Linked DNA regions of Homo sapiens. The protein of the gene in region 1 interacts with the protein of each later gene in a pairwise test. Each region holds a gene or a part of one and is shown in the gene's direction. Other genes may lie near its edges. The genes, in order: GRAMD1C, CD72 and CD151.

What was found.
Region 2: the proteins of GRAMD1C (region 1) and CD72 interact in binary tests that used the Homo sapiens proteins (3 or more experiments, as listed by UniProt).
Region 3: the proteins of GRAMD1C (region 1) and CD151 interact in binary tests that used the Homo sapiens proteins (3 or more experiments, as listed by UniProt).

The regions. Positions count from the first base shown.
Region 1 is NC_000003.12:113,831,751-113,843,888, forward strand, and holds the start of GRAMD1C (protein Aster-C), read left to right. Parts: upstream 1-7,037; 5' UTR 7,038-7,159; coding exon 7,160-7,186; intron 7,187-12,138. UniProt on the Homo sapiens protein: Cholesterol transporter that mediates non-vesicular transport of cholesterol from the plasma membrane (PM) to the endoplasmic reticulum (ER).
Region 2 is NC_000009.12:35,613,100-35,625,304, reverse strand, and holds the start of CD72 (B-cell differentiation antigen CD72), read left to right. Parts: upstream 1-6,891; 5' UTR 6,892-7,001; coding exon 7,002-7,083; intron 7,084-7,183; coding exon 7,184-7,291; intron 7,292-8,057; coding exon 8,058-8,129; intron 8,130-8,615; coding exon 8,616-8,705; intron 8,706-8,918; coding exon of another isoform or gene 8,919-8,959; exon of another isoform or gene 8,960-9,026; coding exon 9,027-9,362; intron 9,363-12,205. UniProt on the Homo sapiens protein: Co-receptor of B cell receptor (BCR) that plays both positive and negative roles on B-cell functions. Recognizes the Sm/ribonucleoprotein (RNP) self-antigen ligand, and coligation of CD72 and BCR inhibits BCR signaling.
Region 3 is NC_000011.10:835,952-839,489, forward strand, and holds the end of CD151 (CD151 antigen), read left to right. Parts: intron 1-111; 5' UTR 112-118; coding exon 119-202; intron 203-299; coding exon 300-491; intron 492-817; coding exon 818-892; intron 893-1,298; coding exon 1,299-1,403; intron 1,404-1,508; coding exon 1,509-1,667; intron 1,668-1,990; coding exon 1,991-2,077; intron 2,078-2,181; coding exon 2,182-2,241; 3' UTR 2,242-2,880; downstream 2,881-3,538. UniProt on the Homo sapiens protein: Structural component of specialized membrane microdomains known as tetraspanin-enriched microdomains (TERMs), which act as platforms for receptor clustering and signaling.

The DNA.
Region 1 (12,138 bases):
CTCCAGAGTTTCTATGTGGTTCCTTTTGTAATTTATATCTCTTTATTGATATTCTTCATTAGGTGAGACATTGTTCTCATGGGTCTCTTTTGAATTTGATTTCTTTTAGCTCTTTGAGCATATATGAAATAGTTGATTTAAAGTTTTGTTTGCCTAATGCTCAGGCTTCATTAGGGGCTGTTTCTATTATTTTTCTCTGTATATGGGTCAAACTGTCTTGTTTCTTTGTGTACCTTATAATTTTTTGTTGAAAACTGGACATTTTGAATATTATAATGCAGCAACTTTGTTTTTTTTGAGACAGAGTCTTACTCTGTCGCTCAGGCTGGAGTGCAGTGTGCAGTGGTGTGATCTCGATTCATTGCAGCCTCCATTTCCCCAGTTCAAGAGAGTCTCGTGCCTCAGCCTCACGAACTACAGGCACCCACCACCAGGCCTGGCTAATTTTTGTGTTTTTAGTAGAGATAGGGTTTCACCATGTTGGCCCGGTTGGTCTTGAACTCCTGACCTCAGGTGATCCACCTGCCTCAGCCTCCCAAAGTGCTGGGATTACAGGCATGAGCCACTGTGCCTGGCATAATGCAGCAACTTTGAAAATCAGGTTGTACACCTCCCCAGGTTTTACTGTTGCTGCTTATTTTAGCATTTATTTGTGGTTTGTTAGTATCTTTTATAAACTACTTTTTTATGTTATGGTAAAATATACACAAGATAAAATTAACCATTTTATCCATTTCAAGTATGGTTCAGTGACATTACGTGCATTTATATTGTGTAATGATCACATCTCCAGAACTTTTTCTTCACCCCAAACTGAAACTTTGAACCAGTTAAATAAAGCCCCATTCTGCCCTCTTCATAGCCCCTGGAAACCACCATTCTACTTCCTTTCTCTATGAATTTGACTACTCTAGGTACCTCATACAAGTCAAACTAATTTTGTAAAGTTTGTATTCTTTGTTTTATGTGGCCACATAAGTCTCTGTTCTGTCAGATTAGAAAAAAATAAAAACCGAGGAAGAAAAATACATACAGAAACAAGCAATTATCTTCCAGTCTTTGCAGACTGGCTTTCTGTGTGTGCTGGGTATGCCTGTAACACCCAGCCAGGCAGTTTATATCTCTGCCTTAGCCGAGCAAAAAGTCAGCCAGAGGTGGAAGTTTAGGGCCTTCTTAGGTCTTTTCTGAGCATGTTCCCAGCTTTGGGCATGGATGTGGCCTTCTGGATTCCCAGGAATTTGTGAGAGTTTTTCAAAGCCCTTATTCAGATTGTCCATTGTTTGCCTGAACTGTTATCCCTTGCCCCAAGTGATACTGGTAATATATTTGCCTTCAAATTTTTTCTTTTCTTTTCTTTCTTTCTTTCTTTCTTTTTTTTTTTTTTTGTGTGTGTGCGTGTGTGTGTGTGACGAGTTTTGCTCTTGTTTCCCAGGCTGGAGTGCAATAGTGCTGTCTTGGCTCACTGCAACCTCTGCCTCCTGGGTTCAAGCAATTCTCCTGCCTCAGCCTCCCAAGTAGCTGGGATTACAGGCTTGTACCACCACGCCCAGCTAATTTTTGTATTTTTAGTAGAGATGGGGTTTCTCCATGTTGGTCAGGCTGGTCTCGAACTCCCAACCTCAGGTGATCTGCCCCCTCAGCCTTCCAAAGTGCTGAGATTACAGGCGTGAGCCACCATGCCCGGCCCAAATGTTTTCAATAAATACTCTACCTGCCCCCTCTACCAACATTCCCCCACCAACACCTGCCCAAGGCAGGTGTCCTACCCTTGGAAGAGTTCTGAGATAAAATAAGGCAAACAAGTCCTTGAGCCTTCAGGGAGCCACCAAACAGGTCAAAGCAAACAGATAACAATTCTTCGAGAATAAGGTCTGTACTGCTACCTCTGATACTACGAATCAGTACCAGGAATGTGGGCTATTGTAGAGTAGGGGATGGTACCAGGGTAAGTTAAAATAAAATGTCACAAAAGTCTTTTACTGAGACTCAGCTGTTTTTTCTTAATTAAGCATTCCCCTGATTGTGGTAAGGTTTTGGTGACATTCCAGATTTCCAAATAAATTGTTTCTGACAGCTCTTGCCACCTTTTTTGTTGCTTTTGTGGAAGTACAGACTTTTGAAGTTCCCCACTCTGCCATTTTCGTTGATGTTGCTCCTCCTCATTCTTTTAAAAATTATTATGAAACTGCACAGAATTCCAAATTCTAATGGATGGAGGTTTGTCATTTATTTAACCAGTCCTTTATTGATGATGATTTGTTTTCAATTTTTACTACCAACTATTCTTCTAGGAATAACTTTGGATTATTTTGCATGTGTGCAATTAAATCTATAGGAAAAATTGCAGAAGTTGGTACTGCTGAAGAGTATATGCATTTTGTAATTTTTGAAGCTATTGCCAAATTCGCTATATTACTTTACACCTCCATTATTATTATTATTATTTTGAGACAGAGTCTCACCCTGTCACCCAGGCTGGAGTGTAGTGGTGCAATCTTGGCTCACTGCAACTTCCGCCTCCTGGGTTCAAGCGATTTTCCTGCCTCAGCCTCCCAAGTAGCTGGGATTACAGGCGCCTGCCACCACGCCTGGCTAATTTTTGCATTTTAGTAGAGACAGGGTTTCACCATGATGGTCAGGCTGGTCTCGAACTCCTGACCTCAAAGGATCCACCTGCCTTGGTCTCCTGAAGTGCTGGGATTACAGGCATGAGCCACCGCACCCAGCCTCTACACTTCCATTATAAGAGTCCTGTATCCCCACGGTCTTGTCAGCAGAATGCGTTTTCAAATTTCTGTACTTTTTGTCAAACTAGTAAGTGAAAAATAGTATTTCAGTGTGGTTTTAATTTCTATGCTATTCTGAGTGAAACTGAGGATCTTTTATATTTTTAAGAGACATTTGCCCAGGCACGGTGGCTTACACCTGTAATCCCAGCACTTTGGAAGCCCAAGGAGGGTGGATCATGAGGTCAGGAGTTCGAGACGAGCCTGATCAGCATGGTGAAACTCTGTCTCTACTAAAAAAAAAAAAAAAAAAATTAGCTGGGCGTGGTGGTGGGCACCTGTTATCCCAGCTACTCCAGAGGCTGGGACAGGAGAATCGCTTGAACACAGGAGGTGGAGTTTGCAGTGAACTGAGGTCGTGCCATTGCACTCTAGCCTGGTGACAAAAGTGAAACTCCGTCTCAAAAAAAAAAAAAAAAAGACACTGATATTTCCTTTTCCATGAACTTTCTGACATATACTTTAACAATTTTAACTTGACTATGGTTTTTCCATATGTTTTTCTGGGAGCTGTTTACATATTAGTGTGATCTCACTTTAAATACATGACCATTAATCTCCTAATTAAGCATTCCCCTGATTGTGGTAAGCAGGGATTTCTGGGAGCTGTTTACATATTAGTGTGATCTCACTTTAAATACATGACCATTAATCTCAATGAGGCATTTGTGTTGCCCAGCAATGCTACTGTTTTACTGTTTTCCTAAAACATTAGTCAGTTCATTCACCTGTGCTCCTAAGTATTTCATAATTTCTCCTTTCTCTTCAAACTTCTAACAACTTTTCTTCCATATTCACTTTCACCTTATGTTCTATTTCACTGCAAAATATATCAATGCTCTTCAGCCAAAGTCCAGGAGAACCATAGCTGTAGTTAGACAACATTGTGTTTATTGACTCATTGCAATGAGGGTGAAAAAATACCATGGAGAACCATGAGGACATCTCAGTGAAAGGGTGTTAGAAAGGTCTTACTACAGGATTTGGGTTTGTGTTCAGTGATTTTGCGAGGAGGATTCAAGAAGTGGAGCTTTGTCCCAGATTACATATTGTCAATAAGATGTGGTTATTCTGATTGGGTATCTTAATACATCTTATCTAGAAGGTAGGTGGAATAAAGTGAAGCTAAAGCTGTTATTGGGAAAAAGGCAGCAGTCAGTCATATTAGTCAGCATAGGGACATAGTCATTTCTGTGTTTCGAACGATGTTCACATTTTTGTCTGTGTTTAGACATGATTACCCAGTGGCCTTCTTTTTGTCTTACTCTATCATGATCATACAGTGGCCTTGCTTAATATTAGTGTTCTGTGACGTTTTTTATGTTTAACAGAACACAGTTTATGCAAAGTTTTGCAGAATGAGGATGGAAACCTGTCTTTTACTGATTATCTTATTAAGTAATTTGTCCTTTAGTATGTCATATATATTTAAGAAATATGCTCATGGCCAGGTGCAGTGGCTCACGCCTGTAATCTCAGCACTTTGGGAGGTTGTGGCGGGTGGATCACTTGAGGCCAGGAATTTGAGACCAGCCTGGCCAACATGGTGAAAGCCCATCTCTACTAAAAATACAAAAATTAGCCGGGCATGGTGGTGGGCGCCTGTAGTCCCAGCTACTCAGGAGGCTGAGGCAGGAGAATTGCTTAAACCTGGGAGGCAGAGGTTACAGTGAGTCAAGATTGTGCCACTGCACTCCAGTCTGGGGGACAGAACGAGACTCTGTCTCAAAAAAACAAAAACAAAACAAAACAAAAAAGAAATACACTCAGTGTCTGACATTTTGTGGAACTGGATTCAACTCCTTTCCATCTCTTCAACTTTACATTATGATTTTTAAATATATGTAAACAGTAAAAGAATAACTGAATAGTAGTATACCCTCCACTTAGGTCCAATAATTAACGTTTCGCTATTTTGTTTTCTCTGTGTATTCATCTTCGTGGAAGCATTTGGAAGCAAGTTGCAGACATGGTGCTACTTCACTCCTAAATACTTTTTTTTTTTTACATCCCCATGGATAACAGGGAACTCCTAAATATTTTAGTGTGAGTTTTCTAATATTAAAGACACCCTGCAACATAGCCACAAGTTATTATTATTATTATTATTTATTATTATTATTTGAGACGGAGTTTCACTCTTCTTGCCCAGGCTGGAGTGCAATGGCCTGATCTCGGCTCCCTGCAGCCTCCACTTTCCAGGTTCAAGCGATTCTCCTGCCTCAGCCTCCCAAGTAGCTGAGATTACAGGTGCTCACCATCACGCCCGACTAATTTTTGTATTTTTAGTAGAGACAGGGTTTCACCATGTTGGCCAGGTTGGTCTCAAACTCCTGACCTCAGGTGATCCTCCCACCTCAGCCTCCCAAAGTGCTGGGATTACAGGCTTGAGCCACCACGCCCAGCTGCCAAAAATTATTAATTATCCATAAATGAATATCCATAAATGTATACATAAATCATTAATTATCCTGTAACATCAACTCTAATAGCCATTTCATATTCACTATTCCTCAATTGTTCTAGAATGTCTTCCCTCCCTCCCTTCCTTCCTTCTTTCCTTCCTTCCTTCCTTCCCTCTCTCTCTCTTTCTTTCTCTCTCTCTGTCTCTCTTTTCTGGAGATGGGGCCCCCCTGTTTTGCCCAGGCTGGTCTTGAACTCCTGGACACAAGCAACCCTCCCACCTTAGTCTCCCAAAGTGCTGGAATTACATGAGTTAGCCACTGTGCCTGGCTTAGAATGTCTTTTTTATAGCTGTTTGGTTGGGAACTCTGAACCCCAAATATCTGAGACAGGCCTCAGTTAATTTAGAAAATTTATTTTGTGAAGGTTAAGGACACACCTGTGACACAGTCTCAGGAAGTCCCAATGACATGTGTCCAAGGTGGTTGGGGTACAGCTTGCTTTTATATATTTTGGGCAGACCTAATACATCAATCAATACATGTAAGATTTACATTGTTTCAATCTGGAAGGGGAGACAGCTCCAAGGCGAGAAGGAGGAACTTTCAGGTCATTGGTACATAAAAAAATTTTCTGATTTGCAATTGGTTGAAAGCGTTATTATTGACTGGGAGCTGTGGCTTGCACGTGTAATCCCAGCACTTTGGGAGGCCGAAGGGGGCAGACTGCTTGAGTCCAGGAGTTCGAGACCAGTCTGGGCAACATGGCGAAACCCTGTCTCAAAAAACAAACAAACAAACAAACAAACAAACAAACAAAGTAGTTAAGCATGGTGGCACACGCCAGTAGTCCCAGCTACTCGAGAGGCTGAGGTGGGAGGATTGGTTGAGTCCGGGAGGTGGAGGTTGCAGTGAGCAGAGATTGCGCCACCGCACTCCAGCTGGTCTAATAGAGCCAGAACCTGTCTCAAAAGAAAAAGAGAAAAAAGAGTTATTATCAGTAGAAAGGAATGTCTGGGTTAGGATAAGGGGTTGTGGATACCAAGGTTTTATCATGCAGATGCAGCCTCCAAGTAGCAGGTGTCCGAGGCAATAGATGATAAATATTTCTTCTCAGACTTAAGGTCTGTGTTGATGTTAATGAGGCATGTCCAATCCCCTCTTTCATCATGGCCTGAACTAGATTTTCAGGTTAAATTTGGAACGCTCTTGGCCAAGAGGAGGGGTCCATTTAGATGGCTGGGGGTGGGCCTCGGCATTTTATTTTTGGTTTACAGAACCAAGAATCTGCAATACGTACAGCAGTTAATCAGTAACTTCAATCCTTTATTGGAAGGAACAAGAGTTTCCTGGCCGGGGGCGGTGGCTGACGCCTGTAATCCCAGCACTTTGGGAGGCCAAGGCCAGCGGATTGCCTGAGGTGGGGAGTTCGAGACCAGCCTGACCCACATGGTGAAACCTTGTCTCTACTAAAAATACAAAAATTATCCGGGCGTGGTGGCAGGCGCCTGTAACCACAGCTACTCGGGAGGCTGAGGCAGGAGAATCGCTTGAACTGGGAGGCGGAGGTTGCAGTTAGCCGAGACGGGGCCTTGGCACTCCATCCAGCCTGAGGAATGAGAGCGAAACTCCGTCTCAAAAAAAAAAAAAAAAAGTTTCCGAGCAATTCACCTTTTCGCACATTGGGGCAGGGTATGCCATTTCCTGGGAGGCACAGTAGTTTGAGGTTGGGAATAGGGAAGTCTCATTGTGACCCCTAGAAAGACAAGCCTTCAGGCTAACCCGGTAACACCCATCGTCAGGAATCCTTCACGGCCGCCAGAGGGCGCAAGGAGCTGCGGCTGGAAGTACTCGGAGGGCCGGCGGAGGAGGCGCGCGGAGCCTGTAACTCGCAGCGCGCGCTGGAGGTGGGCGCGGGGCGGTGCGGTGCGGTGCGCGCGGGGCGGTGCCGCGGCGGCGGAGGGAGCCGCGATGGAGGGCGCTCCGACTGTCCGTCAGGTAAGCCGCGGGCCTCGCTGGGGCAGGTTCCCATCTGTGGCTTTAGCCTACTTTTTCTCACGGTGATTGCTTGAACCTTCTCAGATTACAGTTAATCCCTCCCTTCCCTTTTCTTCGTGCTCTTTGGAGTAATACGGAAAGTTGTTACCGAGGAAACGGTTTCCTGTGCCTCTGCGAGCCCTTTCCCTACGGGCGGTGGTGGGGACATTTGCTTCCCTGTGGGCGTTGAGGGCTTGAATTTGGTCCCGAAATGTCCTGGTGCGGATGTCTCAGCCCCAGGCCCCCTTGGGTCAGGCCCCATGGTCGTGATTCTGACCCACTGTCAACGTTTTTTCCAGCCTTGCCCCCTTCCTTTCATTCTCAGCCCTGTTGTAAAGGTCCGGATAGTTTAAATCACTGTGCTGTCAGCCAAGTTTTTGATTTCAACTAGTCTAGTTTTATTTGTTTACTACCTTATTTGACAAAACGGAAAGCGTGCTTATTAATATTCAGGATGAAACCCCGCTTTTGTTGGACGGGCGCCTGCGTTTCTGAACACCATCCTCCTTCTACATTGGTTTGTGTGTATGTATTTTACTTTTAGAGAACTGCGGTCAGTGCTATATCTTCTGAAGAGCGTTATAGTTTACAGATTAGTGGAGGTACACAAATAATTGTTGAATGAACAGATGAATGAGTGTTATTTCACTTGATTTGAAAAACATTACTATGAAATAGTCAAGCTGGATATTCATGAACCCAATCAGTCACTGATTCAGTTATGTCCCTGGCACTGGGTGTTCGGGATTAGATGGTGATTAACACAGACATGATCCCTGCTCTCAATAAGCTTATTGTCTAGACTAGAGATAAAATTATTTCCTCTATTGTAGAGTTAAGGAACAGATGTACAGAGATTGACTTTGCTAAGGACCACACAGCTAATAAGTCAGAGAGACAGGAATCTACTGTAGCCACCCCAGAAAGCCAGAATGGACCCCCATCCCAAATTTGATTCAGGTGTAGAAACTGATGATGCCACACACACACCATGAGGTTGGAGTAGAAACTGATGATGCCACACACACACCCTGAGGTTGGAGTGCAGTGGCGCAATCTCGGCTCACTGCAAGCTCTGCCTCCCGGGTTCACGCCATTCTTCTGCCTCAGACTCCCCAGTAGCTGGAACTACAGGCGCCCGCCACCACGCCCGGCTAATTTTTTGTGTTTTTAGTAGAGACGGGGTTTCACCGTGTTAGCCAGGATGGTCTTGAACTCCTGACCTCATGATCCGCCCGCCTCGGCCTCCCAAAGTACTGGGATAACAGGCTTGAGCCACCACCGCGCCCGGCCCTGAAAAAGTCTTTTACTTACATAATTAAGGTCTCCAGGGAGAGCAAGGCAGGCCTCTCAAGCAGCACTAAAATGGCTTAAGAGAGCCTCAGGAAAAAACTGGCTCCAGGTCTTTTTTTCACCCTTGATGTTTGATGACTGACCTGCACCATTTGAATTTGAATTTGAATTTAAGTCAGCCATTGTGGCCCAGTGCAGTGGCTCATGCCTGTAATTCTAGCACTTTGGGAGGCCAAGGCAGAAAGAAGTATCGCTTGAGGACAGGAATTTGAGACCAGCCTGGGCAACAAAGCAAGACCCTGTATCTACCAAAATAAAAAAAAAAAAGAAAGAAAAATTAACTGGGCATGGTTGTGTGGCGCCTGTGGTCCTAGCTATTTGGGAGGCTGAGATAGGAAGATCACTTGAGCACAGGAGGTTGAGACTGCAGTGACCCCTGTTTGTGCCATTGCACTCCAGCCTGGGTGACAGAGACCAAATTATTTTCAGAAATTTAACCAAGGTGGTAGGCCTTACACTATGTGTGGCACAATAGCCCATCCTCCTTTTGTGAGCTCCTTTGTGAGTATGTCAAAAGACTGTCCTCAGGGGAGGATGTCATCAATGGAATGTTATACTTGTGCTCCTGGAGAAAATTTGATGCAGTTAAGATCTTTCCTGTAAAGGCTGTGTATGATGGCAAGACTGCGTACTCTATGGTTAGCCTGGTAAAGAGATGTTATGTCTCTCTGGAGGTGAAGACCAACTATGGCTGAGGAGGTGTTGAAAGAGACACTGAACAGAACATATTAGCCAAATCTATCACAGCAAAATATTTACTAGTTGTGGACTGGATAGTCAGTAATTTCAACAATGTTGAGTATAGGGGCCTTCCTGGGTAAAATGACATCATCGAGGATGCAGTAATGAACCATGAGGTACCATTCATTCTTACCAAATTTAACAGGCCAAATTGGGCTGTTAAATGGAGAAGCAGTAGGGATAATTACTTTCACAAAGTACTTCTTTCTTTCTTTCTTTTTTTTTTTTTTTTGCGAGACAGAGTCTTGCTCTGTCGCCCAGGCTGGAGTGCAGTGGCACAATCTCAGCTCACCGCAACCTCCACCTCCCGGGTTCAAGCAATTCTCCTGCCTCAGCCTCCCAAGTAGCTGGGATTACAGGCACGTACCACCACGCCCAGCTAATTTTTGTATTTTGTTTTAGTTGAGATGGGGTTTTACCATGTTGGTCAGGCTGGTCTTGAACTCCTGACCTCGTGATCCACCTGGCTTTCCCTCCCAAAGTGCTGAGATTACAGCATGGCGTGAGCCACCGTGCCTGGCTGAAGTAGGTCTTACATAACAAGTTTTAGTCCTTGAAGGCCCTGTTTTGTTTTATATTGGGTTGTATAATTTTAACTGGGCATTGAGAGTGGTGGTCCATAGGGTCTCACTGTTTTGTTTATTTTGAGACAGAGTCTTGCTCTGTCACCTGGGCTGAAGCACAATGGTGCAATCACAACTTACTGTGATCTCCAACTCTTGGACTCTGGCAGTCCTCCCACCTCAGCCTCCCAAGTAGCTAGGACTACATGTGTGTACCACTATGCCAGGCTAATCTTTAAATTTTTGTAGAGAGGGGGCCTTGCTGTATTGCCCAGCTTGTTCTCCATACTCTTGGCCTGAAGTGATCCTCCTGCCTCAGTCTCCCAAAATGTTGGGATTATACGTGTGAGCCAACATACCCAGCCTGTTGTCCCACTTCTTTGAAAGCCAATTTGTAAGCTCTAAAGACTTGATTTAAATTTAGTTTATTACTAATTGTGTCAGAGTGTCCATGGCCACAATAGGATATTTCAGGGCAATGTATACCACCATCGTGGAGTATTTAGGCAAAGGTATAGTTCTGATGGTTAAAGTGAGGCATACCTATTTGTTGTCTATTTTATGTTGAATAACTCCTAAGATTGTAGGGGATACCTTGTTTAAATTTAGTGGGAACTCTAGGTATAACTGTAATTTGAGACCCAATATTGATTAAAGCCATGAAGATTTGCCAATTGCCGCATTTTAGCTGATGTTGAAGTTAACTTAGAACCTATGTTGTAGAGGCACAAAAGCCAGTCTTTTATCTTTTATCCTGTAAATTATTTTAAATTCTGTATGTTTTGTTAGATCAGTTTATGGACTTCAGTTTCAGTTTTTTTTGTTTGTTTTTGTTTTGCTGTTGTATGTTTCCTCCCCTTCTATCCAGGTTTGTTGGTTTCTCCCTCTCTTTTTGGAGGTTACTGGATATACTTCAGGTGGAGGAGGTCTTCTCTACCCTCTCATGTTTACAAATTTCTTTCTCTAGAGAGCCTCAAATCAGTATCATTGTGATTAGAGGCTTCCCCCATGGCAATGGTTATTTATAGGGTTTAAGAACCTCAAGTTTGGCCAGGTGCAGTGGCTCACGCCTGTAATCCTAGCACTTTGGGAGGCTTAGGTGGGCTGATCACGTGAGGTCAGGAGTTTGTGACCAGCCTGGCCAACATGGTGAAACTCCATCTCTACTAAAAATACAAAAATTAGCCGGGTGAGGTGGTGCACGCTTGTAATCCCAGCTACTCGGGAGACTGAGGCAGGAAAATCGCTTGAACCCGGGAGGTAGAGGTTGCAGTGAGCCGAGATCACGCCACTGCACTCGAGCCTAGGCGACAGAGTGAGACTCTGTTTCAAAAAAAAAACAAAACAAAAAGAACCTCAAGCTTAAGTGGAGCAGCAGCAGCAGAGATATTTAAGGATCCTGGTCCACCATAAGCTGTTTTTTTTTTTTTTTTTTTTTTTTTTGTTCTTGTTGTTTGTTTGAGACAGGGTTTTGCTTTGCCGGCCAGCCTGGAGTGCTGTAGCTTGATCATGGCTTACTACAGTCTTGACCTCCCAGGCTCAGGCAATCCTCCCACCTCAGCCTCCTGAACAACTGGGACAATAGGCGCATGCCACCATGCCAGGCAAATTTTTTGATATTTTTTGTAGAGACGGGGTCTCACTATGTTGCCCAGGCTGGTCTCAAACTCCTGGGCTCAAGAGGTCCTCCTGCCTCAGCCTCCCAAAGTGCTGGGATTATAGGCATGAGTCACTGTGCCTGGCCCATATGCTTTTATAATGGCTACTCCTCCTTACTCCCCTATTCCATATTTGCTTTTTTCTTTTTTTAACTGCCTGATGAGTGATCTTACTTGAGCAATTACCCGATGGGCCCATATTTTTTTGAGACAGAGTCTGGCTCTGTCACCCAGGCTGGCATGCAGTGGTGTGATCTCGGCTCACTGCAACCTCCTCCTCCTGGGTTCAAGCAATTCTTCTGCCTCAGCTTCCGAGTAGCTGGGACTACAGGCCACCATGCCTGGCTAATTTTTTGTATTTTTAGCAGAGACAGGGTTTCATTATATCGGCCAGGCTGGTCTTGAACTCCTGGCCTCAAGTGATCCCAAAGTGTTGGGATTACAGGCGTGAGCCACCTCGCACAGCTGGCACATCTTATTTGTTTGTTTAAACTCCATTGTTTGTATAAATCAGAGCTTATTTACTAATTTCTCTATTGATGGACGGTGAGGTTATTTCCACTTTCATAGTATTAACAAACATTCTTGACTCTATGTG
Region 2 (12,205 bases), on another chromosome or scaffold:
TCTATCCAGACCACTCAAACGCTCTCCATATCAGCAATAAGACTGTTTTGCTTTCTTATCATTTCTGTGTTCACTGGAGTAGCTCTTTTAATTTCCTTCAAGAACTTTTCCTTTGCATTTGCAACTTGGCTAACTGGCATAAGAGGCCTAGCTTTTGGCCTATCTTGGCTTTGGACATGCCTTCCTCACTAACCTTAATCCTTTCTGGCTTTTGATGTAAAGTGAGAGATGTGCAACTCTTCCTTTCACTTGTACACTTAGAGACCATTGTAGGGTTATTAACTGTCCTAATTTTAAGATTGTTGTGTCTCAGGGAATAGAGAGACCCAAGGAGAGGGAGCAAGACAGGGAATAGCCAGTCAGTGGAGCAGTCAGAACACACACAACTTTTATTAAGTTCAATGTCTTATAGGTATGGTTCATGGTGCTCCAAAACAATGACAATATTAACATCAAAAATCACTGATCACAGATCTCCATAACAGATACAATAATAATGAAAAAAGTTTGAAATATTTTAAGAATTACCAAAATGTGATGACACAGAGACACGAAGTGAGCACGTGCTGTTGGAAAATGGCACCAGTAGACTTGCTTGCCACAGGGTTGCCATAAACCTTCAACCTGTAAAAAACTCAGTATCTGTGAAGCGTAATAAGTGAAGTGCAATAAAATGAGGTGTGCCTGGACATTCCTACAGTATGTAGCAGCAGCCCTAACCCCTCATGATAATCAGGCAATCAGGTTCAGTCACCTCTGCCAGGGTAATCGCTCCCCACTAAGTATGTGAGCTAGGAGTAGCCAGGCACGATCGCTAGGTATGGAGAATTCTGTGGGTCAAGGTAGATGCTCTCTATACATCCTTTCATCTTTAACTCCCACTGCCAACTCAGTGGTCATCTCCATATTTTCCCACTTAAATTCCTGAAAATTGGCATTTGATAAACTCATCCTGATGTCCAGGTCGCTGGCTTGTCCATGGACTGGCCAGCCTTAGGCAGAGGCCCACTTGCTCATTTTATATTTTTATTAAATTAAATTTATTATTATTATTATTATTATTATTATTATTATTATTATTATTATTATTTTTGAGACAGAGTCTCCCTTTGTCGCCCAGGCTGGAGTGCAGTGGTGTGATCTTGGCTCACTGCAACCTCCGCCTCCCAGGTTCAAGTGATTCTCCTGCCTCAGCCTCCCGAGTAGCTGGGATTACAGGCATGTGCCACCACGCCCAGCTAATTTTTGTATTTTTAGTAGAGATGGGGTTTCATCGTGTTGGTCAGGCTGGTCGTGATCCACCGACTTCAGCCTCCCAAAGTGCTGGGATTACAGGCGTGAGCCACTGGGCCTGGCCTTTATAAATTTGTCTTTTTAACCCATTTTTTTCTGAGACGGAGTCTTGCTCTGTCACCCAGGCTGGAGTGCAGTGGTGGAATCTCGGCTCACTGCAAGCTCCGCCTCCTGGGTTCAAGCTATTCTCTTGCCTCAGCCTCCTGAGTAGCTGGGATTACGCATGTACCACTATGCCCAGCTAATTTTGTATTTTTAGTAGAGACGGGGTTTCGCCATGTTGGCCAGGCTGGTCTTGAACTCCTGACCTCAGGTGATCCGCCTGCCTCGGCCTCCCAAAGAGCTGGGATTATAGGTGTGAGCCACTGCGCCAGGCCTCGCTTGCTAATTTTAATCAGCTGAGGTCAAAGGGGTTGGAGGTCACAAGACACAATTTCTGGGGACTAGGGCTGCCTCATCAGCAGGGGTTTGCCTGCTTAAAAAGGGCTATAGGTAGTATTTAAGTATGGGATAAAAAACACAAAGTAAAAAACAAAACAAAAAAAAAGGGCTATAGGTGTGGCTGGCACAATGTTAGATGTATTTGGTAAGGGGGCTACAGTTCTATGTGGCAGCCTTTTGTCACAAGCTTCTTTCCAGTCACTGGGTCAGTTTATAAGGCGCTTACAGCCTGCTGAGTCCAGTTTCCCAATTTGTAAAATAAGCAGGCTGGGCTCTCTAAGATCCCTTCAAGTGTAAAATAATAACTGCCTTTCTCCTCAAACTTTGTTACATAAACAATTGTTAACCCAGGACTCCCTCCATCCTATGCTTATGCAATTTATTTTTTGAATTCCAAATTTCATTTTTCAATAAATGCTTGCTGTATTATCTTTTTTTTATTTTAATTTTGATTCATTTATTTTTTGAGGGAGGGTTTCACTGCTGCCCAGGCCAGAGTGCAGTGGCACAAACATGGCTGACAGCAGCCTCGCCCTCCTGGGCTCAAACAATCCTCCCCACTCAGCCTCCCAAGAAGCTGAGACCATAAGCATGTGCCATCACACCTGCCTAATTTTTAAATTTTTTGTAGAGATGGAGTCTCGCTGTGTTGGCCAGTCTGGTCTCGAATTCCTAGGCCCAAGTGATCCTCCCACCTCAGCTTCCCAAAGTCTTGGGATTATAGGCATGAGCCATTGTGCCTGACTTTGCTGTTATTATTATTATTATTATTATTATTTTTTTTGAGACAGAGTCTCGCTCTGTCACCCAGGCTGGAGTGCAGTGGCACCACCTTGGCTCACTGCAACCTCTGCCTCCCGGGTTTAAGCGATTCTTTTGCTTCAGCCTCCTGGGTAGCTGGGACTACAGGTGTGCGCCGCCATGCCCGGCTAATTTTTGTATTATTAGTAGAGACGGGGTTTCACCATATTGGCCAGGCTGGTCTCGAAATTCTGACCTTGTGATCTGTGCACCTTGGCTTCCCAAGGGATAACAGGCGTGAGCCATCGTGCCTGGCCTGCTGTTATTATTTTTATGACATTTCATTCTGTGGTTTGGAGCCATCATTTTGCCTTGTTGCAAGGCTTGAATCTTGAGTTGGCCTTTTGATGTATTTGCTTTTCAGCTCTGTGCCATTAAGCACAGAGAACGTGCTTTCTGTGTCACCATTTGAGGCAGGACCAAGGAGAGGCCTGGGGCAAGTCACCGAAGACCTATCTGTACTCTTTGGCTTCAGTGATCAAAGAAATCCAAGTCTCCCTCATGGTGCAATCAGGTGGCCCATTTTTCTCCCTCCTGACTCTGAAGCCTTTGTGACAGATTTTAAAGAGGCGTTTGTAAAGTCCACACCTAGTGTGTCTCCAGCAATCATACTCTTGATTGAGGTCAGACTATCTTGTATTTTACAGATGGAAAACTGTCACTTGCCCAAAGTCACATACTGTGGCAAGGCTGGTCTCTTTAACCAGAGTCTCCCTATTCTTTCTATTACATCATGCTTCCTCCACAGTTCACGAAACTCTTGCTGCTCTAATAAATTACACACTTGGTGGCTTAAACAATACAAATTTATTGTCTTACAGTTGTGGAGATCAGGTCGACACAGGTCTCACTGGGCTAAAGTCAAGGTGTCTGCAGGGCTGGTTCCTTTCTGGATGCTGAAGGGGAAAATCTGCTTCCTTGCCTTTTCCAGCTCTCAGAGGCTTCTTGCATTCCTTGGCTCAAGGTCCTCTTCCTGCACCTTCAAAATCAGGACCTATGGGTTGAGTGTTTCTCCTGTGGCGTCTCTCTGGCCCTCCTTCCCTCACCGAATCTCTTTCTTCCCATGATGGGAAAGGTTCTCCCTTTCAAGGACTCATGTGATCAGAGTGTGCCTACCAAGATAAAACAGGATAATCTCTCTATCTAAAGGACCTTGATTAACATAGCCACATCTACATTTTGTCAGGTAAAGTGACATAGTCACAGGTTCTGGGGATTCGGGTGTGAACATTTTTGGGAGGCCATTATTCTGGCTACCACACCCTGTCAGTAAACTAGGGCTTCCCGGAGGCCAGTGGGTTAAAGTAATGAAGACAGATATAGCCTGACTTTCAGAGTCTTAGGAGATGCTCCCGATGTCCTGACATAGACTGTATCAATGACACAAAGTTGATCAGGTGAGCCCCCTTCCACATGGCAAATTCTATCTGATGCCCTCATGGTTGGGCCCCCTCCTCTTGTCAACCGTAAACACCCATTCCCTGTAATGAGTAGTGGGGAGGCCAGGAGAGGGCAAAACATGGGTGTTAGTGTCTGCCCTCCAGGCTCTCAGATGATGATAGTATGGTTCTGGAAAAGCTGAAATGTACAGCACTGACCCCTCACCTCTTAAAAGTTCCCTGATATTTGGGCAGTAGAGGTACAGCTTGGAGTTACAGGTATCTTTTCTGATGTCCAGCCTCTAAATGTAATGTGAATGTCAAAACTGTAAAGACCCCAAGTGACACACGTGGGGAAGGGGAAGGATCCTACTCTCTTACCCTGTTCACAAAGGAAGGCTACAAGCTGGTCTAAGACAGAAGCGAATGCGGCCTGTGATGAAAAGATATGTAACCATCACCAAAAGAGCTAAAGAGGAGAAAAATATAGAACAAGCCTGGTTAAGACATTCAAGATATTGCGGTGTGCAGTTCCATCTGGGGATCCCCTTCTTTTTTTTATTTTTTTTTATTTTTGGAGACAGAGTCTCACTCTGTGGCCCAGGATGGGCACAATCTCGGCTCACTGCAACCTCTGCCTCCCGGGTTCAAGCAATTCTCAGCCTCCCTAGTAGCTGGAATTACAGGCACATGCCACCATTCTCAGCTAATTTTGTATTTTTAATACAGATGGGATTTCACCATGTTTGCCAGGCTAGTCTCAAATTCCTGACCTCAGGTGATCCGCCCACCTCAGCCTCCCAAAGTGCTGGGATTACAGGTGTGAGCCACCATGCCGGCCAGGAGATCCCCTTCTTAAGCCTCTCTACAGGTCAAGTTAGGCAGCAAGCCCATGTATTCCATTTTTTTTTTTTTTTTTGGAGATGGAGCTTTGCTCTTGTTGCCTAGGCTGGAGTGCAATGGTGTGATCTTGGCTCACTGCAACCTCCACCTCCTGGGTTCAAGCGATTCTCCTGCCTCAGCCTCCTGAGTAGCTGGGACTACAGGTTCGAGCCACCACACCAGGCTAATTTTTTTGTATTTTGTAGTAGAGACGGGGTTTCACTATGTTGGCCACAGACACCTTTTTGAGTGCAGACTAGAAGCTTGGTTTTGGCATTTTACCTGGCATCTACATCATGTTCACCTGTGTATTGGATCTGAAAACTGGGACATTCTACAGTTTGTGGAACTCCTGCAAATGTTCCTGCAATTGATTTACTCACACACTGCCCACACCCACCCCCTGTACACCACAGGTTCAAGTATTTGACTCTTCCCACCCCACCCACCCCTGCCACCAGCTGCTCTATACCCTCCCACTCACTCTCAGGGCCCCTGAGGTCCCCAGGGAGTCACCACCACATACCACTCTCTGTATCTGGGGGAAGGTCTAGGTTGTTGGAAACTTTAATCAAGCAAGGACAGTTAACAGCTGCAGAGGCACCTTAGGAAACAGTGAGCTTCAAAAAGGAAATACTTGTAGGATCTCTTGTGATGACCTTTGACGACTTTTCTGAAAATGACCCGTCATTCTCTGCCATGGAAAATAACAGTGATCACAGGCAGCCTTCAGCCCACAGAAGGCTTCCTCCTCCAGGCAGGCTCTGACATAGCCGCTCACCTCACAGATGCCCTAACAGACTGCAAAGTCCTGGGAACATGCATATCCATGCACACACATGCACACGTGCCTCTCTACAAGTACATTTTTGAGGTCACAGCTTTGCCTCAGTGGCCACTTCCTCTAGGGCTGGCTGGGCGGAGCTATTGGCAGAGCTCTAGGGTCCCTGGCAGTGTCCTGCCACACACCACCAATCATCCGAGCTGTTGGCATGTGGTGAGGACCTTTTCCCCCTTCCTTTTTCCTCCCCACAGCTGCAGGAGGGGGATTCTGCGGGGCGGATGTCACTTTGCTAGGGGCGGGTTCTTCCCACCCCCACACTACATCTTGTTCTAGCTCCTTCCTATCCCGGATGTAGGCCATTTTGGGGTTCCTAGTAGGGGTCACATCCCGGTAAAAGAACATTAGGGAGCACCTTTGGGCACCCCTGCTCAGCAGCCCCCTTTCCCCCAACTGGTTCCCTCTCTCCTCCATCAGCCAGGCCCCCACCACCTATGAGGGCCTCGCGGTCCCTGGGTCCTCCGCCACAAATGCCCCCTTTTTCCTTGGGGCTGGGTGGGAAGGGACAGCTTTGGGACTTTTTAAAGAAAGAACTTTGCTAGGAAAGTAAGAGACGAACCAAAACCAAACCAAGAAAATGTCAAGACCTCCGCTGGTCCGGAATCTGCGCTCGGCCTCTGGCTCTGTTCTGCTCCTCTGCCTTGACTTCACCTAGGAAGCTGCAGCCTTCTTAAGCCCTCTGCAACTCCCTTGCTCACCTGCTCCCTGGCTCCCCATGAGGGTGCATGGGGGGCAGTGCTGCCACTTGCCTTTCCAGAGGTGCTGCAGCCATGGCTCTTCCTTACCTTCACCTCTGGCCCAGGCCTGTTCCTGAACCCCCAGTTACTGGAACCCCCAGGATGATGAGAAGCGAGGGATGCAAACCAGGAACCCCCAGTCTCATGGGGAGAACGGAGCCTCACCCTGGAGCTGGGGAGATCGTCTGGGTCAGTGCAGCTCCAGCTACACATCATAAGCCCCAGTGGACAAGGCAGCCAGGAGGAGGGTGGGGCAGATCAGGGCAGATAACCAGAAGGACCGAGTTTGGGGCCCAGCATGGCCCATATGGGTTTAAGATGCATGGAGAGGAAGCACAGGGAGGACATGGGGACAGGCCCATCCCCTACCCCTGTGTTCTGGACCTCAGCGTCCCCTCCGTGGCCCCTCTGGCCCTGGCCCAGGGATGCCTTCTGCTTCATTGAGCCCATCTGTTTGAGACTTGCTAACACCTTCCTCTTTTGTGACTGGAAGTCACAGGGCCAATTGCTAAGCCGTGCAGTCACAGAGGGAACACAGAGCCTAGTTGTAAACGGACAGAGACGAGAGGGGCAAGGGAGGACAGTGGATGACAGGGAAGACGAGTGGGGGCAGAGCTGCTCAGGACCATGGCTGAGGCCATCACCTATGCAGATCTGAGGTTTGTGAAGGCTCCCCTGAAGAAGAGCATCTCCAGCCGGTTAGGACAGGGTAAGGGGGATGAGGCCTCCCCTTGATCCTGCATCCCCACTTCCCGCCCCACAGATCCCATTCCCAAATCCCACCTTGGTCCCTTTTCTCTTCTCTCTAGACCCAGGGGCTGATGATGATGGGGAAATCACCTACGAGAATGTTCAAGTGCCCGCAGTCCTAGGGGTGCCCTCAAGCTTGGCTTCTTCTGTACTAGGGGACAAAGCAGGTCTGGAGAGCCTGGGGGATGTGTGTTTGTTGGGGGGCTGTGTCTTGAGCTGGGGAGTCCACAATGTTTTTGTTGTTGTTCTTGAGACAGGGTCTTGTTCTGTCACTCAGGCTGGAGTGCAGTGGTGTGATCATGGCTCACTGCAGCCTCGACCTCCTGGGCTCAAGTGATCCTCCTGCCCTGGCCTCCCAAAGTGTTGGGATTGCAGGCGTGCGCCCCCATGCCATGGCCCTCAGTATTCTTGAGAGCACAATACCCTGGGGAAAGGAGGAGGGCGGTTCTTAGGAAACAGAAGAATAGGAACAGGATAAATGGGAGCCAGGGGAGGAAGAAAGATTCCTCCCGCAAGGTGGAGACCCCTTTCGGGGAGATAAGGGCTGCGGAGGGATAGGGCAGCCCTGTGGGGGATGAGTTCTAATGGGAAACGGGGAGCCATGGGAGGGAAAAGAGGTGATGGGAGATGGATGAGAGCAAAGGGGGAGAGGGTTTGGAGCCGACAGATAAGGGGCCTCTGAGGAAACGATAAAGGGAGAACTAGGAGAGATGAGGGGGTCCCGGGAAAAGATACAGTGAGACCCAGGAGGAAGCCGAGAGAGTCCCGGGCAGAGGAGGAACTCAGGAGAGTGACACTGTGTCCCAGAGCAGCTCTAGCAGGCAACGTAGGGCAGACTGGAGTTTCCCAGTGGCGAGGGCGAAGCGGGTGCGCAGGAGGAGAAGGGGCAACACTCGGGGCTTCCGGTCTCACACTGGATGCTCCCCTCGACAGCGGTCAAGTCGGAGCAGCCAACTGCGTCCTGGAGAGCCGTGACGTCACCAGCTGTCGGGCGGATTCTCCCCTGTGAGTGTGCCTGTGCGGGGCAGCCGCGGGGCCAAGTGCTCGCGCCTGTCCCGGCTGCGGATGGCGCTGGGCCCCGCGGGGTGCAGCTCCTTCCGGGATAAACCCGGGCGCAGTCCTTCCGACGCCCGGGCTGCCGTGCCACATTCACCTTCATCCGGTGCGCCTGAATCCGACGTGCACCGCCCCCCTGCGGATGGTCCCAATTCACCTACCTGCCCCCCTTCCCCTCTCTCCGTCTGATATTTCCTTCCCCTTCTCCCAGGTAACGCCCCCGAGTCCCCACCAGCACTGATTCTGGAACACCCTCTCCCCTACCTGCGAAACACCCCGCTACCCGACAGAAACCACCATGCTTGCCCCCTCAGCTCTGCACCGCCCTCCTCTTAGGGATGCCTTCCCCAGGGGTCTCCCCCACGGACCTGTCCCTTCCTCTCTACATTCTTTACGGGGGCTGACTGCCCTCATCCATCCCACTGTCCCCCTAAGGCCGCACAACCTGCCTGCGATACCTCCTGCTCGGCCTGCTCCTCACCTGCCTGCTGTTAGGAGTGACCGCCATCTGCCTGGGAGTGCGCTGTGAGTAAGGCTGTCCCTACTTCCCACTTACACCGAACGACTTTCGTCCCGACTCTCGCCCCAAAGCTGATCTTCCTCAGCAGGGATCATAGTCACTACCACCACCTCCTTAGCTTTGGGTTTGGTTTCCAGCCAGGGCTGTTGTCTTCCTGAATTGTCCTCACCTAATCCAGTACCTCCTTACGCTTTAGTCAGTCAAATCTTGTATTTCAGCCTGTGATGCAAAAAGTTGCAAGAAGCAGAAAAAGGGCTGATGCTGCAGTCTCAGGGCACTAGGGCAGGGCTGGAGAAGACATCCACCAAATCTCTGTGGCCAAACAGATCTGCAGGTGTCTCAGCAGCTCCAGCAGACGAACAGGGTTCTGGAAGTCACTAACAGCAGCCTGAGGCAGCAGCTCCGCCTCAAGATAACGCAGCTGGGACAGAGTGCAGAGGATCTGCAGGGGTCCAGGAGAGAGCTGGCGCAGAGTCAGGAAGCACTACAGGTGGAACAGAGGGCTCATCAGGCGGCCGAAGGGCAGCTACAGGCCTGCCAGGCAGACAGACAGAAGACGAAGGAGACCTTGCAAAGTGAGGAGCAACAGAGGAGGGCCTTGGAGCAGAAGCTGAGCAACATGGAGAACAGACTGAAGCCCTTCTTCACATGCGGCTCAGCAGGTATCCGCTCTGGGGAGAGGAGAGAAGGGAGGGATGGATTGGAGCAAGGAGATAGTAGTGGCAGGAGTCTATCACCCAGGGGCCTGTGAGGTGTTCAGGAAAGGGGCAGTGAACCAGAGTGGTGGCTGACATGAGCTGTTCAGCCTTGGCCAACAGAGAGAAGGACCAAGCTGCATACTAGATTTAGGGGGACCCACCCAGCTCCAAGGCTCATCCTGTAGGGGAGAGGAGGATGGCAGCCAGCAGTCCAAATCACACTGTCCAAGGTTTCTTCCGGTTGATATCAGTGACAAGGATCTGGGAACGCCCCCAAATTTGGATGTGAACTTGGCGGTTTGCACATCTTTCTAAAGACAGGGACCTCATTTTTAATTAATTTTCGTTATAGCTGAGATCTCCCCAAAGGGTAAGACTTACTGGCTGACATGGAGTGCAACCTGGTGGTGGGGCAAGGCAGTGAGGCGCTCAGCACTCACAGTGAGGTGGAGCTGGGAGTTGTGGTGTAGGGAACTAGGATGGGGTGTCCATTCATTTTGAAAGCAGGACCCCAGCCAGTAAGTGGAGATGGGGAAAGGGACACATAAAAGAGGCAAGGCTGTATCAAAACAGGCTGAGGGTCTAGGCAAGGTGCCACGCCTAAGGGGACTGGGGTGTTTTTGGGCTATGATCAGGTTTAGGCTCTGTCTAGCTTGGGGGTCATCTGGGTGATCTCCCCAGGCATAAGACAGCAAGATTATGTGCAGACACCCCTTGCCCTCATTTCCTTAACCTTACCCTCTGTGACCATCAGTTCCATGCCAGGGCTGCTCTTAGCAGCATGTTAGACCTCTACCTCCCAAATTGCTCTTCCGGCGAAAGGATGGTTTCAGACTTCCACTCTGATCACAGCTGCCCACCACTCCTGCAGGTTTTCCCCACACTTTTTTGATCTCATCAAGGCCTCCAATCTGCTGACTCCCCTTTTTCTCCCTTCCCATCAGTCCAGGCCTCCAATCAACTGATTCCCCTTTTTCTCTCTTCCCATCAGCTTCTCCTGTCCACACTTCTCTCCCTACCTAACATGGGTTTGGAGCCCATCACTTCAACTACTCACTTATTTTTTTAAATAGAGACAAGGTCTCACTATGTTTCCCTGGCCGGTATCGAACTCCTGGACTCAAGCGATCCTCCTGCCTCAGCCTCCCAAAGTGCTGAGATTACAGTCGTGAGCCACCGCACCTGGCTCACTCACTTCTTTGTTCCATTATCCTTCTAGTGTACCTGATGGGCAAAATTTGAACTCTGGATGAACCCAACTGCCCATGGTCAGCATCAAGGTGTGACAAATTGTGGAATCATTCTGCTCAGTGCCACTGAGACTCTAGTCTCTCAGCACTGCCTGGCAACCTTTGCAATGGTCAGCTTGCTCTCCATAGTAACTCCTTCTCCCTCACTTTCAGCAGATGTCCTCATCTTCCACTCTTTCAGAGAGGAATTCCCTTCACTTTCCATCACCAAGTCTATATATCCATATGGATTTTTGCCCATCCTCATCTTTTGCAAGGATATCTGCAACAGCTTTCTAAATGTTTTTCCTACTCACTCCTCTCCCTGCAGTCCATTCTTCATATTGGAGCCAGGGTAATCTTTTACAAACAAAAATCTGATCGTGTCACCCAATCTACAGCATTCCAGTTAATTGATTACATAAACAGTTATGGAATACATAACATATAATATGTTCTAGCACTGTGCCCAGGCACTTGGGATATAGCTAGTGAACAAAATTCCTCTATGTAAAACCCTACACTGACTTTCTCTTCCTCATAATATAAAAATAAAAATCCTTAACATGGCTTCCATCACTCCTGCCTACCTTTCAGTGTGCCACTTATCTCCTCACCCTCTTCCATTTGGCCATACAGATTTCTTTTTTTTTTTTTTTGAGGCGGAGTCTCGCTCTGTGAGACTGAAGTGCACTCCCAGGCTGGAGTGCAGTGGTGTGATCTGGGCTCACTGCAACCTCTGCCTCCTGGATTCAAGCTATCCTTTTGCCTCAGCCTCCCGAGTAACTGGGATTATAGGCATGCGCCATGGTGCCTGGGTATTTTTTGGTATTTTTAGTAGAGGTGGGGTTTCACCATGTTGACCAGGCTGGTCTTAAACTCCTGACTTCAGGTGATCCACCCCGCCTCGGCCTCCCAAAGTGCTGGGATTACAGAAGTGAGCCATTGTGCCCAGCAGGGATTTCTTTTTATTCCTTTAAGTTGCCATAGGACAGTAGCTCAAGGGAGTAGCAGGGTGGGGACATGAGCATATGTAGAGAGAAGAGAGGGAGCTAGTGGAGAGGGAATGATTTTTGAGTGATGAAGGTAGGACTGATGGAACAAAGCAATGGAGAGAGGTGGCCTGGGATCAGAAGTGCACATTGGGATGTAGGATGTTGAAGAAAGAGGGATATTTATTTCTTATGGATAGTCAGGAAAAGAAGAACAGAGAAGAGAAATTTTGAGGTGGAGAGGAGGGAAAAGGAGAGAGCTCAGTTTCTGCAAAACAGTACACAACATTTTCTGCTTGTAGGAAATTGGAGAGGGACGGAGGGGGCCAGTGCTGGAGGAGTGGAGGATGTGCAGTGAGGGGTGCTTTAGGGAGTGGAGGAGATGGGCCCAAGAGATGTTAGGTAAAGTGTCAGGGTGGACTGCAATTGTTCAGAAATTGGGGTAATAAAATCAGCCCTATTAAGACAGACCTCCCAGATTGCTAAGAAGTAATGTTGTTGAATGTTAAAGTCTTTTTACTAAGTAAGGACAGGTATGGTGTTTCCAGGGGATGCAAAAGAAAGATTGCAAAGATCATAGAAGTCC
Region 3 (3,538 bases), on another chromosome or scaffold:
GCTGGGATTACAGGCGTGAGCCACCGCGCCTGGCCCTGTGTCCCCTCCTATCCGTCTCCCAGTCAGGGGCCCGGTGCTGTGGCCCCGCTGACCCCTCCCCTGCCTCCTCAGCCCCAGGATGGGTGAGTTCAACGAGAAGAAGACAACATGTGGCACCGTTTGCCTCAAGTACCTGCTGTTTACCTACAATTGCTGCTTCTGGGTGAGGAGGGGTCGCCTTGCCCCCACCCCCACCCCCACCCCTCCCGGGCCACCATCAGACCTGGGCAGATGCGATGACCTTTGTGTACTGCTTGTAGCTGGCTGGCCTGGCTGTCATGGCAGTGGGCATCTGGACGCTGGCCCTCAAGAGTGACTACATCAGCCTGCTGGCCTCAGGCACCTACCTGGCCACAGCCTACATCCTGGTGGTGGCGGGCACTGTCGTCATGGTGACTGGGGTCTTGGGCTGCTGCGCCACCTTCAAGGAGCGTCGGAACCTGCTGCGCCTGGTCAGGAGGGCGCAGGGCCACGGGGTGGGGGTGGTGCAGATGGGCCCAAGGAGGTTGTCGCTGCAGGCTTTGAACCTGTGCCTTGCTGTGCTCACCTGGGGGGGGGGTCACGGTCCTTCCACACCTGCCTAGTCCTGTGGGTCCCCACGTTCCTGCTGGACCAGCTGAGGGAAGACACCAGCTCCGCAAGAAAGCTTCAGGGAGGGTGGCCGCCCCTCAGCCCCCACCTGGAGCCTGGGGAGCCGGGGTGGGGACTCTGCTCTGAGGTGCACTAGGTCTAGGCACTAGGCCTCAGAACAAGGGTGCCCTTGTGCTGCCCCCCCCAGTACTTCATCCTGCTCCTCATCATCTTTCTGCTGGAGATCATCGCTGGTATCCTCGCCTACGCCTACTACCAGCAGGTGAGGGGCCTGGGCAGGCCATTCAGAGACACAGACATGCACAGGCGGGGCGGACACACACACATGCACACGCGTGGCTAGCCCCAACCCCCACCCCCATGGTCCCAGAGCTAACCAATGTGCCACTGGGCCCTGGAGATGGGGTCTAGGTCTCTGCAGGGGCACATGGGGTCAGGCAGGTGTCCAGGGGATCCAGAAGCTCTCTCTGCCTCTGCCGCACTTCATTGTCACCCTGGTGACGGTCCTGGCACCACCCAACCTCCCCTCATGCCGAGGTGTGACCTCAGCCCTTCCCTGTGGCTCTGAGCTGGGCCCCGGGCCTCCCCACCGGCCATCCTGGGGCTCTGCCAGCCCCACCTTGGAAGGTCTTAGACTGAGGCTGAAGTTTCCTGCACCCCAACCCCAGCTGAACACGGAGCTCAAGGAGAACCTGAAGGACACCATGACCAAGCGCTACCACCAGCCGGGCCATGAGGCTGTGACCAGCGCTGTGGACCAGCTGCAGCAGGAGGTGGGTGGGTGGTGCTGGGAGGGCGCGTGCATCCCCAGGGCCTCCCTGGACCTCTGCAGGAGCCTCTGGCCCCAGGTCTCAACCCCAGCCTTGTTCTTGATGCAGTTCCACTGCTGTGGCAGCAACAACTCACAGGACTGGCGAGACAGTGAGTGGATCCGCTCACAGGAGGCCGGTGGCCGTGTGGTCCCAGACAGCTGCTGCAAGACGGTGGTGGCTCTTTGTGGGCAGCGAGACCATGCCTCCAACATCTACAAGGTGGAGGTGGGTGTGCAGCGGGATCATGCCTCCAGTGTCTACGAGGTGGTGGGGGGGCACCCCAGTGACTGGCTGTGGGCAGTGGGACACGCCTCCAATATCTACCAGGAGGTGGGGGGTCACCCCAGTGGCCGGATGTGGGCAGTGAGACCACACCTCCAATATCTACGAGGAAGTGGGTGGGCAGCCCAGTGGCTGGCTGAGCTGTTGGTGGCCTGGCTGCCTAGGTGCTAGGGGTGGGTTTGGCCACACCCTGGAGGCTGGAGGCAGTAGGGGCCAGTGGGAGGTGCCCCCTGGGCCCGCCTTCAACACCCATCCGCGCCCCGCAGGGCGGCTGCATCACCAAGTTGGAGACCTTCATCCAGGAGCACCTGAGGGTCATTGGGGCTGTGGGGATCGGCATTGCCTGTGTGCAGGTGAGGGCACATGGGGGTGGCGGTCATCTTGTTGGGGACACGGGGCAGGGCGGTGGCTGGTGGCCCCATGACGTCTGCTTACGCCCACCCGGCTCTGCACACAGGTCTTTGGCATGATCTTCACGTGCTGCCTGTACAGGAGTCTCAAGCTGGAGCACTACTGACCCTGCCTTGGGCCTTGCTGCTGCTGCACCCAACTACTGAGCTGAGACCACTGAGTACCAGGGGCTGGGCTCCCTGATGACACCCACCCTGTGCCATCACCATAACCTCTGGGGACCCCAACCTCAGAGGCAGCTTCAAGTGCCTTTTGCTGCGCACCAATGCCCAGCAGGGGAGGTGAGGGGGGCTGGCGGGGCGAAGTTTGGGGGGTGTTTTGTGGGGCTCCCCAGACACACTCTCTGCCTGGTGGTCAGATGCAGGTTGGAAGGGGCCTTGCTGAGTGGCGCAAGGCCGAGCGTTCCCAGCAGGGGGAGAAACCCTTCACACCCCAGGCCCTTCAGGAACTGGGGCCTTGCCTTGCAGCCACATGGCCCCATCCCAGTTGGGGAAGCCAGGTGAGCTCTGACCCTTGGGCCTGGGCCTCTGCCCCTCCCAACCCAGCCCTCGTCTCCCTCGACAGCGCCCCTGCTGTCTTCCCCACCGCAGTCACCACCACCCGAAATGCCACGTGGTCACTGTGCACTGCCCTGTTCATGTGCCTCTGCGGGGCAGGGCCTTCCTGGTTTTGTTCACTGCTGTACCCAGATGCCTACAACCATCCCTGCCACATACAGGTGCTCAATAAACACTTGTAGAGCAGATGGACGAGCTCGCTGTGCTGGTAACAGATGGTGGTCTGTTCTCAGGGCCCTCGCATCCAGCAGGGCAGACAGACCCACCCCCGCCCCGCCCAGTGTCAGGACAAAGAAGGGCAGAGCCAGGAGGACACACCCCCCATGGGGCTCCAGGGAAGGGAGGTCTGATGCCAGGGACAGCTGAGCACAGGCCTCAGCAGAAAGAACTGAACATGTTCCTAAATGGTGAGATGGTGTGTTCAGAGCCCCTGGGGGAGAGGAAAAATGGTTTCCAAAACCCTTCTGGCCATGGTGGGGAGCAGACGTGGGAAGGGTGCAGACTGGGGGCCGTGCCCAGGTAAGAGGTGTCAGGCAGGTGGGGTGGGGGCAGTAGGGTGAGGGGGTTTACATGGAGGAGCCTATAGGCCCTGCTGGGGGCCAGAGGGTAGGAGGTACCAGAGCCTGGTGTCTGGCAGAGGTACCCTGGAGATGGGAGCCAGGGCTCGGTCACTGATTGTGCCCCCCACTGCCCAGGTTCCTGTCCTTAAGGCTCAGAACTGTAGACCCTCAGGCAGACCCGTTCTCCCCTACCAGAGGACACCACGCCAGATATCTGGGCAGCAGGGACATCTGACCTGGGGTGCTTGCTGGCAGCACTGCCTGGACAGCAGGGCCTCCTTAGGGC